Regions from separate parts of the Homo sapiens genome. Here region 2 is linked to region 1. The links come from fine-mapping of genetic effects on gene expression. Tissue or cell type: whole blood. Region 1 holds a variant in brackets; the other region holds the start of a gene. All regions are shown on one strand. Distances are between the middles of the regions.

What was found. PIP is the estimated chance that this variant, and not a neighbour inherited with it, causes the effect.
Region 2: COX8A starts here. The variant in region 1 is fine-mapped to the expression of COX8A in whole blood (TOPMed, PIP above 0.99).

Annotation. Positions count from the first base shown.
Region 1 is chr11:63,998,993-64,004,243 of GRCh38, forward strand. It overlaps MACROD1 (mono-ADP ribosylhydrolase 1), which reads right to left. Exons shown (of 11, transcript NM_014067.4): 5 at 1,235-1,351; 6 at 650-771; 7 at 538-568; 8 at 339-412; 9 at 1-44. Among named protein-coding and RNA genes, the nearest start is that of OTUB1, 15 kb to the left of the region's middle. RefSeq lists enhancers at 1-622, 196-285, 623-1,558, 1,571-2,078 and silencers at 416-655, 1,306-1,885. The variant C/G (reference allele first, on the strand shown) is at 2,680.
Region 2 is chr11:63,971,736-63,976,735 of GRCh38, forward strand. COX8A (cytochrome c oxidase subunit 8A) reads left to right here and starts at 2,885. Exons shown (of 2, transcript NM_004074.3): 1 at 2,885-3,059; 2 at 4,490-4,808. The coding sequence starts at 2,946. The coding sequence ends at 4,585. RefSeq lists an enhancer at 2,799-3,238.

The sequences.
Region 1 (5,251 bases):
TCCTCGTCCTTCTCGAGGAACACGCAGATGATCAGCCGGTCCACCTGCGCCAGGGGCTGCTCAGCCTGGGCCGAGCTGCCACGCCTGGCCCCAGGATCCTGTGACTGCCTGCCCTGGTGCAGGCTTTCACCTGCCTGGCCCTGCGCCCTTCACGGAGGCTCACGGCTGTGTGCCATCACCCCCATCTCGCCACCGCCAGGCGCCCTTGCGCAGGAGAAACAGGGAAGGAAGGGGCGGGCCTGGCCCTGCGCTCTGCACCCTGACTCCCTGGGCGATGATGGGGGCTGGTCACTCTGGCCGGGATGCGGACCCCACCCTCGCCCGGGCCCAGGACTCACCTTGTCCTTGTGCTGCTCCAGCCACTCTCGCAGCGTGGCCAGCACGATCTCGGCGGCCGCCTCACAGGGGTAGCCTGAGGCGGGTGGGGCGGGAGTGAGTCCTAGGCTCTGGCCCCGCCCACTCCCCTGTCCGCCCCGGCCCCTCCCGGCGTCTGGGTCCACCGCCCACTCCTGGTCCTTGCCTTTCTTCCAGACTCACCAAACACGCCGGTGGAGATGCAGGGGAACGCCTGGGCGGGGAGGGGTGAGAGGGGGTTGGAACATTGTCACTGCGCCCCGCCTCCCGCCCTCCCCCGCGGGCCGTCCCTCACCACCGAGCGGAGCCGGTGCTCCAGCAGCAGGTCCAGACTGCTCAGGTAGCAGCTGCGGAGCTCGGCAGCCTGACTGGCGCTGGGCTCCCCGTAGGCGATGGGCCCCACTGTGTGGATGACGTCTACGGGGGGCGACGGGGTCAGACCGGCGGGGGTCTACGCGGTCCTCAGCTCCCTCGCTTCCCCCTGCCGGCCTGGGCAGAAGGGGGCAGGAAACACCTTTCCCCCCAAGCGCTGAGCCTCCTCCGCGAAGGCCCCCACCCCTGTGGGCCCCCTCGAGCCCGAATCCGCACGCGCACAGAGCCCCGCGCCCCCTCCCCACATCTGTATGGGCCCGGCTGAGACCCGAGCGCGAGTGTGGGCGCGAAGGCGTTGCCCCCCAGCTCCATCCTCAGCCTCCACGCACGGTCTCCCCCATGTGCTTCCTGGGGTGTGCGGGGTGGGGGCCGGGTCTTGGCCCTTAAGGTTAAGAAGGGCCCCCTGAGGAGTTCCCCAGCACTCCTGTGGGGGCCGCACCCCTGATGTCCCAGTGACACACGGGCGCCCTGTCTGCGCCCCACAGCTGGGGGCGCGTCGGGGACTCACACTTGGCCGGGAGCCGATAGCCGCCGGTGATCTTGGCCTTGCCAGTCTTACAGCTCTGCAGGGTCCGGCACTCGTCGGTAAGCAGGGGGCCGGCGGCCCGATGAATGCAGCCGTCCACTGCGGGAAGGGCGGGCGCGACTGAGCTGGCCTGGCAAGGCTGCGGCCCCGGGGTGAGCACCCTCAGTCCCGAGAAGCCCCTCGGCGATGCGAGGACCCATGCGGAGCCGCGCCCCAACCCCGTGGCCTCCGGCCGCGGCCGCTGCCCCCACCCCCGCCCGGAATGTTTCACATCTGGGGAAACCGAGGCGCAGAGCGGGACGGCCCTGGGCCTGGCGGGAAGTCGCGCAAGGAGGCCGGCAGGGGGCGCACCCGGCCCACCCTGTCCCTTCCAGGCCGCGCCGCCAGGGCCCAGGCAGGGCGGCTCCGGGAGGCGGGGGCCGCCGGGACAGGAACCGCCGCCCGAGCCGGGGTGACGGGGAAGCTTCCTCCCCGACGCCCCTCCCTAGCCCTGTCCCGGGCGCGCTGCAGGGCCCGCGACCAGTCGCTGCCTCCGCCCGGGCCTCAGCGTCGGTGCGATCCCAAGGCCCACCTCCCCAGGCGGCGCCCCATCACGGGGCGGCGGCAAACCCTAGGACCCATTTTGCGGATGAGGAAACCGAGGCCACCTTGTTACAGGGTGATCAGATCTGTAGCTGGAGTCTGGGTCTTCCAGCCGCGCGGGGAGGTGAGCCCGACGCCCGGGCCCGAGTCTCCTGGCGCGCAAACCCCAGCTGGTTAATGAACCGCCTCGTTAGCGCATCCAGCTTAATTACGGCCCCGCATGGGCTTGTTTATCCGAGGGCGGCTGCAGGGCCTCGCGAGCGACCCTGGGGACCCGGGCGCAGATAAACAACCGGGGCGCAGCGGGAGGCATGGAGGAAACGCTCCAGCAGCCCAACCTCGCCAGGGCACCGCGCAGGAGAGGCGCGGCCTCAGGCAGGCCTGGGTCCAGCCCGGGCTCACCCCTCATCGGCTGTGAGATCCTGCCCCTTCCCCTCTCTGGCGTCCACCCTCTTATCTGGAATACCGGGACAGCGACCCTCCCACAGAGGAAAACGCCGCGTGCTGGCCGGGAGGACAGGGCCCATCTTTGGCAGCTCTGATCGCCCACGCCAGGAGCTCCTCAGGCACCAGCTGCCTGGTGCTCACAGGCGGGCATCAAGAGAGGACCATCATTCCCCATTTTACAGATGGACAAACCAAGGCCACCTTCTCCTTCATCACCTCAGTCTCGGCACAGTTCCAGGGATGCCAGGTAGCTCACACCCCTTTCTTTTGCTGTTTGATCTCGTGCCCTGGGGGCACAATTAAACCTCATTCTGCAACTTTACTCAGAGCTGGCACCAGGCAATTTCCCAGAGCGTCCCAGGGATGGGTGGGCAGAGAGGTTAGGGGAACGCTGAGAA[C/G]GGCTCAGGCCTGGATCCCTTCCACCTGCTCCTCTCCTCTGCAGGGAGAAAGGCAGCTGTAGCCCAGGGCGAGGCTGAGATGGAGCAAGAAGGCAGGGCCCAGAGCGGGCGTCCAGGCTGGAGCTCCCAGTGCTGGGAAGTGAGTGTTCCGAATGGGGTGCCGTGGCTGGGCTGTGGAGCTGGGCAACGTGAGTTCACATCCTGGCTCTGCCAGCCACAGATGTGTGACCCCTCACATATCATTTAACCTCTCTGGGTCTCAGTTGCTCCATCTGGAAAATGGGATAATAGCACCCACCTCAGAGCTCATTGGGCTGTTGGAAGGATTGAGTTAAACTAACTTTGTAATGTGCTTAAGGCAGTGCTTGGCAAGAATGGAGGTCATGAGTGTATCCTGTTATTAACAACAGTGTGACAGTGTGGGCATGTTCGGGTATGTGTACATCAGTGTGATGGGAGGTGGGTGCACACAGGGTGTTCACAGTGTGTGGGGGTGAGCCCAGGGATCTGTCTGAGCTGGCTCTCCTAGGAGCCTCCCGGGTCGAGCACCTGGCACCGGCTGCTCGAAGTCTCTGGGGGCTCACCGCCCTGCAGGCGACCTCGGCCAGCTGTGGGGGCCCGTGCGGGGAAGTGGAGCTCAGTGTTTCAGGAATTTAATGTTTCCTGCGGAAGTGGACTGGCCTGCAGCCAGGCCTTTGGGGCTGACCTGGGGGCGCAAGGGAGGTGGAGGGAGCTGGAATCAATGCTGGCAGAGGGCTCAGGCCAGATGCCCCCTCCTCACCCCCAGCAGTTCCAGAACAGGGCCTGGGCCAGGTGATGGCTCTGCAGGGGCCCCAGGGAGGGGCTCCCCTAAAGCAGAGATGAGGGACAGGTCACTGTCAGCCCACTGCTACCCCAACAAGCTAGAGTGCAGCCTGGCCCCTCTTGCCTGCGTGTCCCTCCCTGTCCACACACCAGCCTTCTCGCTCTCTCCCCTGAGAGTGCAGAGGGGAACCCCCCCACCCTGCTCTCCTTAGCCATAGGCCCAAAGGACCCCTCCCACACACACTCCCAGAGTCCCCTTAGCTCTGCCCTCCAGGCCCTGTCCTGGCTCTTACCTGGGGCTAAGCTAGGTCCTAGAGACTCAAGCTTCCTGGGGTCCCATTCAGGGGAGATGCCCTTCCTTCCCTCTTCCCTCTTCCCACCCCACCCCAAGGCAGCTGGAAAAGACCAGCAGCCCTGATCCCTGGGGCTACCTGGTGGAGGTGGGGTATTCCCAGTTCACAGGAGCTGACCAACCCTTAGTCTCCTCTCCAGGGCCCTCAGCCACCAAAACAAACCTCCAGGCTCCAGCTCAACCCTCACCCCAAGTCAGCAGAAAACCTGGGGTCTTTCCTGGGGAGGCAGAGCCCACTTGGGTGGCGGGACCCCCCTGAGATGTTTCTCCATCAGGTCAAAGATGAAGCCTTCCTCCACCTGTGGCCAGAAGATGGCCCCTAAGGCCCCTCTGCCTCCTCCCTGCAGCCCCTTCTTCCCTCCACCCTCCTCTACCGTTAAACTCCCCCTGATATGGCTCCTTCATATCAGCCCTCTGTCTCACTATATCATCCAGGCTGGAGTGCAGTGGTGCAATCTTGGCTCACTGCAACCTCTGCCTCCTGGGTTCAAGTGATTCTTATGCCTCAGCCTCCCGAGTAGCTGAGCTTACAGGGGCGCACCACTATGCCCAGCTGATTTTTTGTATTTTTAGTAGAGATGGGGTTTCACCATGTTGCCCAGGCTGGTCTTGAACTCCTGACCTCAAGTGATCCACCCGTCTCAGCCTCCCAAAGTGCTGGGATTACAGATGTGAGCCTGTGTTTTTTTGAGACAGGGTCTTGCTATGTTGCCCTGCCTAAGCCTCCTAAGTAGCTGGTATGACTCACCCCCCATGGCCTTTGTCAGCCTTCTTGTTGGGTAAGCACCTGCGTGGTGATTTACAGCCGCTGTCTTATTATTTTTCCTGTTTATAGAAGAAGAAACTGAGGCACAGAGAGCAAAACTTGCCCACACGGCTGGAAGGTTGGGCTCCCAACCTCAGTGGCTCTGCTTCCTCTGGGACCACTAAAGGGCCTCGCCCTGAACCACTCTGGCTGACTGGTTTGAATGGCCCCCTGTCCACGCTCTTGGGGAGGCAGTGTCTCCCCACATCAGCACGTCCCCTTCCAGCAGGGGGGCTGCCCTGGTGGCCTCTTGTTGCACAGTGTTCTGAGGCCACTGTCTTTCTGGACGGTTTGGCTGCCCCCAGCGCTGACGGCTCCCTCCATCCAGCGGGACTTCCCGTCTCCTTCGTGGGCTCTCGTTCCTCAGGCCGCTCCTCAAATGCCACTGGGGCTCTGCCTGCCCTCGCCTGAGCCCGGAGGAACCTCTTTCTGCCCCAAGCCCTGGCCTCTGAGCGGCCCTTGACCCTCCGCCCCATCTTAGGCATCTCCCTGCTTTGCTGTGGTAAAGCCCTGCCTTCCAGCCTCCACGGCCAGCATTCAGCCCAGCATCTGTGCGCCTCCCATGGAAGGATGTTGTGGAAGGAAGGAGGGCTGGGCTGAGTGATTGCCCA
Region 2 (5,000 bases), 27 kb before region 1:
CACCATGTGGGGCAGGGCTGACACAGGTGTTGCTGGGCACAGAGGAGACACAGGCTTGGGGTGACCAGCGAAGGCATCCTGAGTAGTGCCACCCCACATATCTTCCTAGCACATCATGGTTTTATTTTCACCGTGACACTTACACAATAGTTTCTAATTAAGTGCCTGTTTATTGTCTGTTTTTTCCCTCCAGAAGTCAGCTTTGTGACAAGAAACTCTATCCACCTCGTTCATACTGGTGTCTACAATAGTTCCTAACACACAGTAGAGGCTAATAAATATTCACTGAATAAAGTAAGTGGTATCATTAACTGGAAGCCAGGAAGCAGGAGTTAGCATGGTGAAAAAGGCAGCCTGCATAGGAGCTGAAAAAATGAACATAAAATGCAGAAGCAACGCCGGGCACAGTGGCTCATGCCTGTAATCCCAGCACTTTGGGAGGCTGAGGCGGGCAGATGACATGAGGCCAGGAGTTCAAGACCAGCCTGGCCAACATGGCGAAACCCTGTCGCTATTAAAAATGCAAAAATTAGCCGGGTGTGGTGGCATACACCTGTAATCCCAGCTGCTTGGGAGGCTGAGGCAGGAGAATCGCTTGAGCCAGGGAGGTGGAGGTTGCAGTGAGCTGATATTGCACCACTGCACTCCAGCCTGGGTGATGCATGTCTCAAAAACAAAACCCAAAGTGCAGAGGCAAGGCCAGGTGCCCTGACAAATGCCTGTAATCCCAGCACTTTGGGAGGCTGATCTGGGTGGATCGCTTCAGCTCACGAGTTTGAGACTAGCCTGACTAACATAGCAAGACCCCCCTCCAGCTCTACAAACACTACAAAAATTAGGCTGGGCGCTGTGGCTCATGCCTGTAATCCCAGCACCTTGGGAGGCCAAGGTGGGTGGATCGCCTGAAGTCAGGAGTTCGAGACCAGCCTGGCCAACATGGTGAAACCTTGTCTCTACTAAAAATACAAAAAATAGCCGGGCATGGTGGCAGATGCCTGTAATCCCAGCTACTCAGGAGGCTGAGGCAGGAGAATTGCTTGAACCCGGGAGGCGGAGGTTGCAGAGAGCCAAGATAGTGCCACTGCACTCCAGCCTGGGCAACAGCGCAAGACTCTATTTCAAAAAAAAAAAAAAAAAAAAAAAGCCAGGCATGGTGGTGGGCACCTGTAATCCCAGCTACTTGGGAGGCTGAGGTGGGAGGTTGGCTTGAGTCTGGGAGGTGGAGGTTGCAAGGCTGCAGTGAGCCGAGATCACACCACACTCCACTCCAGCCTGGGCTTAGAGCTAGACCTTGTCTCAACATCAATAACAAAATGCAGAGTGCATTTTGAATGCAACAAAAGGCTTGTTGGTGGAAATCAGAGAGCAGGGTCGAAGGTGTGGAATATTGAAGAGTTTTGAGAGTTGAGGCTGGACAGTGACATCCGGGAATTGGGATTTTGACTAGGAAGCAATGGGGAGCCACTGAAAGTATATGACTTGGTCAGATTTAGGTTTAAAAAACCAAGAAGGAAGGGATGGGGGAGGGAGAGAGAGTGATAGGGTAGGAAGGAAGGGAAGTTGGCTGCTCCAGCATGGTAACTGGAATTGAAGAGTGTAATAGTAATTGAGGGAGGTTTGGTTACTAGGTCAGTGTCAGGAATTCTCAACAAAAACGACGGAGGCCTGGTGGAGAGGAGGGGACTCTCAATAGAGAGATTTTTTTTTTTTTTTTTTTTTGAGACGGAGTCTTGCTGTGTCGCCCAGGCTGGAGTGCAGTGGCGTGATCTCAGCTCACTGCAACCTCTGCCTACCGGGTTCAAGCAGTTCTCCTGCCTCAGCCTCCCTAGTAGCTGAGATTACAGGCATCTACCACCATGCCTGGCTATTTTTTGTATTCTTAGTCGAGATGGAGTCTCACCATGTTGGCCAGGCTGCTTTCGAACTTTTTTTATTGTTGTTTTTTATTTTTGAGATGGAGTTTCGCTCTTGTGGCCCAGTCTGGACTGCAATGGCTCAATCTCGGCTCACTGCAACTTCCGTCTCCTGGGTTCAGCAATTCTCCTGACTCAGCCTCCCGAGTAGCTGGAATTACAGGCGCCCACCACCATGCCCAGCTAATTTTTGTATTTTTAGTAGAGACGGGGTTTCACCATGTTGGCCAGTCTGGTCTCGAACTGTTGACCTCAGGTGATCCACCCGCCTCGGCCTCCCAAAATGTTGGGATTACAAGCGTGAGCCACTGCGCCCGGCCAATTTTTGTATTTTTCGTAGAGATGGGGTTTCACCATGCTGGCAAGACTGGTCTCAAACTCCTGACCTCAGATGATCTACCGGCCCCGGCCTCCCAAAGTGTTGGGATTACATGCGTGAGCCACTGCGCCCGGCCAATTTTTGTATTTTTCGTAGAGATGGGGTTTCACCATGCTGGCAAGACTGGTGTCAAACTCCTGACCTCAGATGATCTACCCGCCCCGGCCTCCCAAAGTGCTGGGATTAGAGGCGTGAGCCAACGCGCCCAGCCCGTACTTTTTTTTTTTTAGTACAGACGGCCTCCCAAAAGTTCTGAGATTACGGGCGTGAGCCACCACGCCCAGCCTGAATAGAGAGAGATTTAACAGTATGAATGAAGGGAGGAGTCAAGAACAGTTTAGGCTTCTCGCGTACATGATTGGGTGGCCCCAGATGTCATTCACAAGTATAAGCCTTGGAGGCGGAACATAACTCGAAGAAGAGCCCTTTTGTGCTCCGCCCATAGCGTAGGAAGGTGTCAATTGGCTGTTTCGAGGAACGCGCCAAAAACTGCCAAGGGCTGTGGGAGGTGTGTTCTTGCGTCATTTCCGAGAGACTTCCGCGCCGCAGTTTCCCTGCTTCCCCAGCTCCAGAACTTCCGGCCAGCGCAGCCATTTTGGCTTCCTGACCTTGGGCTACGGCTGACCGTTTTTTGTGGTGTACTCCGTGCCATCATGTCCGTCCTGACGCCGCTGCTGCTGCGGGGCTTGACAGGCTCGGCCCGGCGGCTCCCAGTGCCGCGCGCCAAGATCCATTCGTTGCCGCCGGAGGGGAAGCTTGGGATCATGGTGAGGAACGGGCCTGGAAGAGCGCGGGAGGCGCCGTGGGCTGACCCCTTCTGCCTAGCTGACCTCAGGTGGTCCTGAGAATGCCTCGCGCCCCGCAGCGTAGCGGGGAGCAGCAGTGCCGGTTTGGGCATGTCTGGAGGGCGCGAACGACGGGGACAGTGCCCGGGCGACAGTCGGGGCTGTCGGCGTTAGGTCTTTCCCCACAGCCCCAGGATCTCGGGTCTGGTCCTGTCAGGCCCTCCCTCTCCTGTCGCCTCCTCGCTGCGCCGCCTCCTGCCGACTTCTTTAGCCGCTCTGAGCCCATTTTCTCGTTGGTTCACTGGGGGATGCCTGACGCTGTCAGCGACGAAAATGGTTGTTACTGCTATTTATTTTATTTTATTTTATTTTACTTATTTATTTTGAGACGGGTTCTCGCTCTGTCGCCAGGCTGGAGTGCAGTGGCGCGATCTCGGCTCACTGCAGCCTCCGACTCCCGGGTTCAAGCGATTCTCCTGCCTCAGCCTCCCGAATAGCTGGGACTACAGGCGCGTGCCACCATGCCCAACTAAATTTTGTATTTTTAGTAGAGACGGGGTTTCACCATGTTGGCCAGGATGGTCTCGATCTCTTGACCTCGTGATCCGCCTGCCTCAACCTCCCAAAGTGCTGGGATTACAGGCGTGAGCCACTGCGCCCGGCCTGGGAGGGGGTTTTCAGGCAAGGAAGGATAGGTATCGTTTTGGAGTTACTGGCCCATGCAAGGATCCTGGGTCTTAACATACAGGCTTTGCTTTTTTTGTTTGTTGTTTGTTTTTTTGAGACGGAGTCTTGCTCTGTCACCCAGGCTGGAGTGCAGTGGTGCGATCTCGGCTTACTGCAACCTCCGCCTCCCAGGTTTAAGCCAAGCCATTCTCCTGCCTCAGTCTCCCGAGTAGCTGGGATCACAGGCGCCCGCCACCACTCCCGGCTAATTTTTTGTATTTTTAGTAGAGACGGGGTTTCACCATGTTGGTCAGGCTGGTCTCTAACTCCTGACCTTGTGATCCGCCCGCCTTGGCCTCCCAAATTGCTGGGATTACAGGTGTGAGCCACCATGCCCGGCCCAGACCAGCTTTAAAACAGGTTTCAATAAATCCTGCTTCCTGTCCCTTCCTTTACCATCTGGTGGTGCATTTCTCCCTGAACCCTAACCCCAGCTGTCTCTCCTTCCTCTCACTCTTCCCCCTCCTTATAACTGACCCTTTACCTCAAGGGTTAGCGTAGCTTTGGACCTGCTCTGTCTGCTCCGTGGAGCGTGGATTCCTTTAACGTGAGGATGCGGGGCCTCCCACTTGCCTCTGAGTCCTGGCTCCCTGAGCGGGGCTTTCTGCTGCCTGGGAACTGCAAGGACTTAGAGAGCCTAGGGGAATACTGACTCCGAGGTGCCTTCTTTCTTGTGCTCTGTGTAGGAATTGGCCGTTGGGCTTACCTCCTGCTTCGTGACCTTCCTCCTGCCAGCGGGCTGGATCCTGTCACACCTGGAGACCTACAGGAGGCCAGAGTGAAGGGGTCCGTTCTGTCCCTCACACTGTGACCTGACCAGCCCCACCGGCCCATCCTGGTCATGTTACTGCATTTGTGGCCGGCCTCCCCTGGATCATGTCATTCAATTCCAGTCACCTCTTCTGCAATCATGACCTCTTGATGTCTCCATGGTGACCTCCTTGGGGGTCACTGACCCTGCTTGGTGGGGTCCCCCTTGTAACAATAAAATCTATTTAAACTTTACTTCAGAAATTCATTGTGCCTTCCCTCCTGCCTGGGCTCATGCCTCCACTGGCACTGGGTGGAGGTGTGGAGAAGAGCGCCCGGCTGGCTGCCCTGTGGTAGGTTTTGTGTGCCTCAGCTGGACTCCTCGTGTGCTTCTGTACCTTTAAATGGTGCCTGGCTTCCTGGGAAGACAAAGCCTGTTGTCATTGT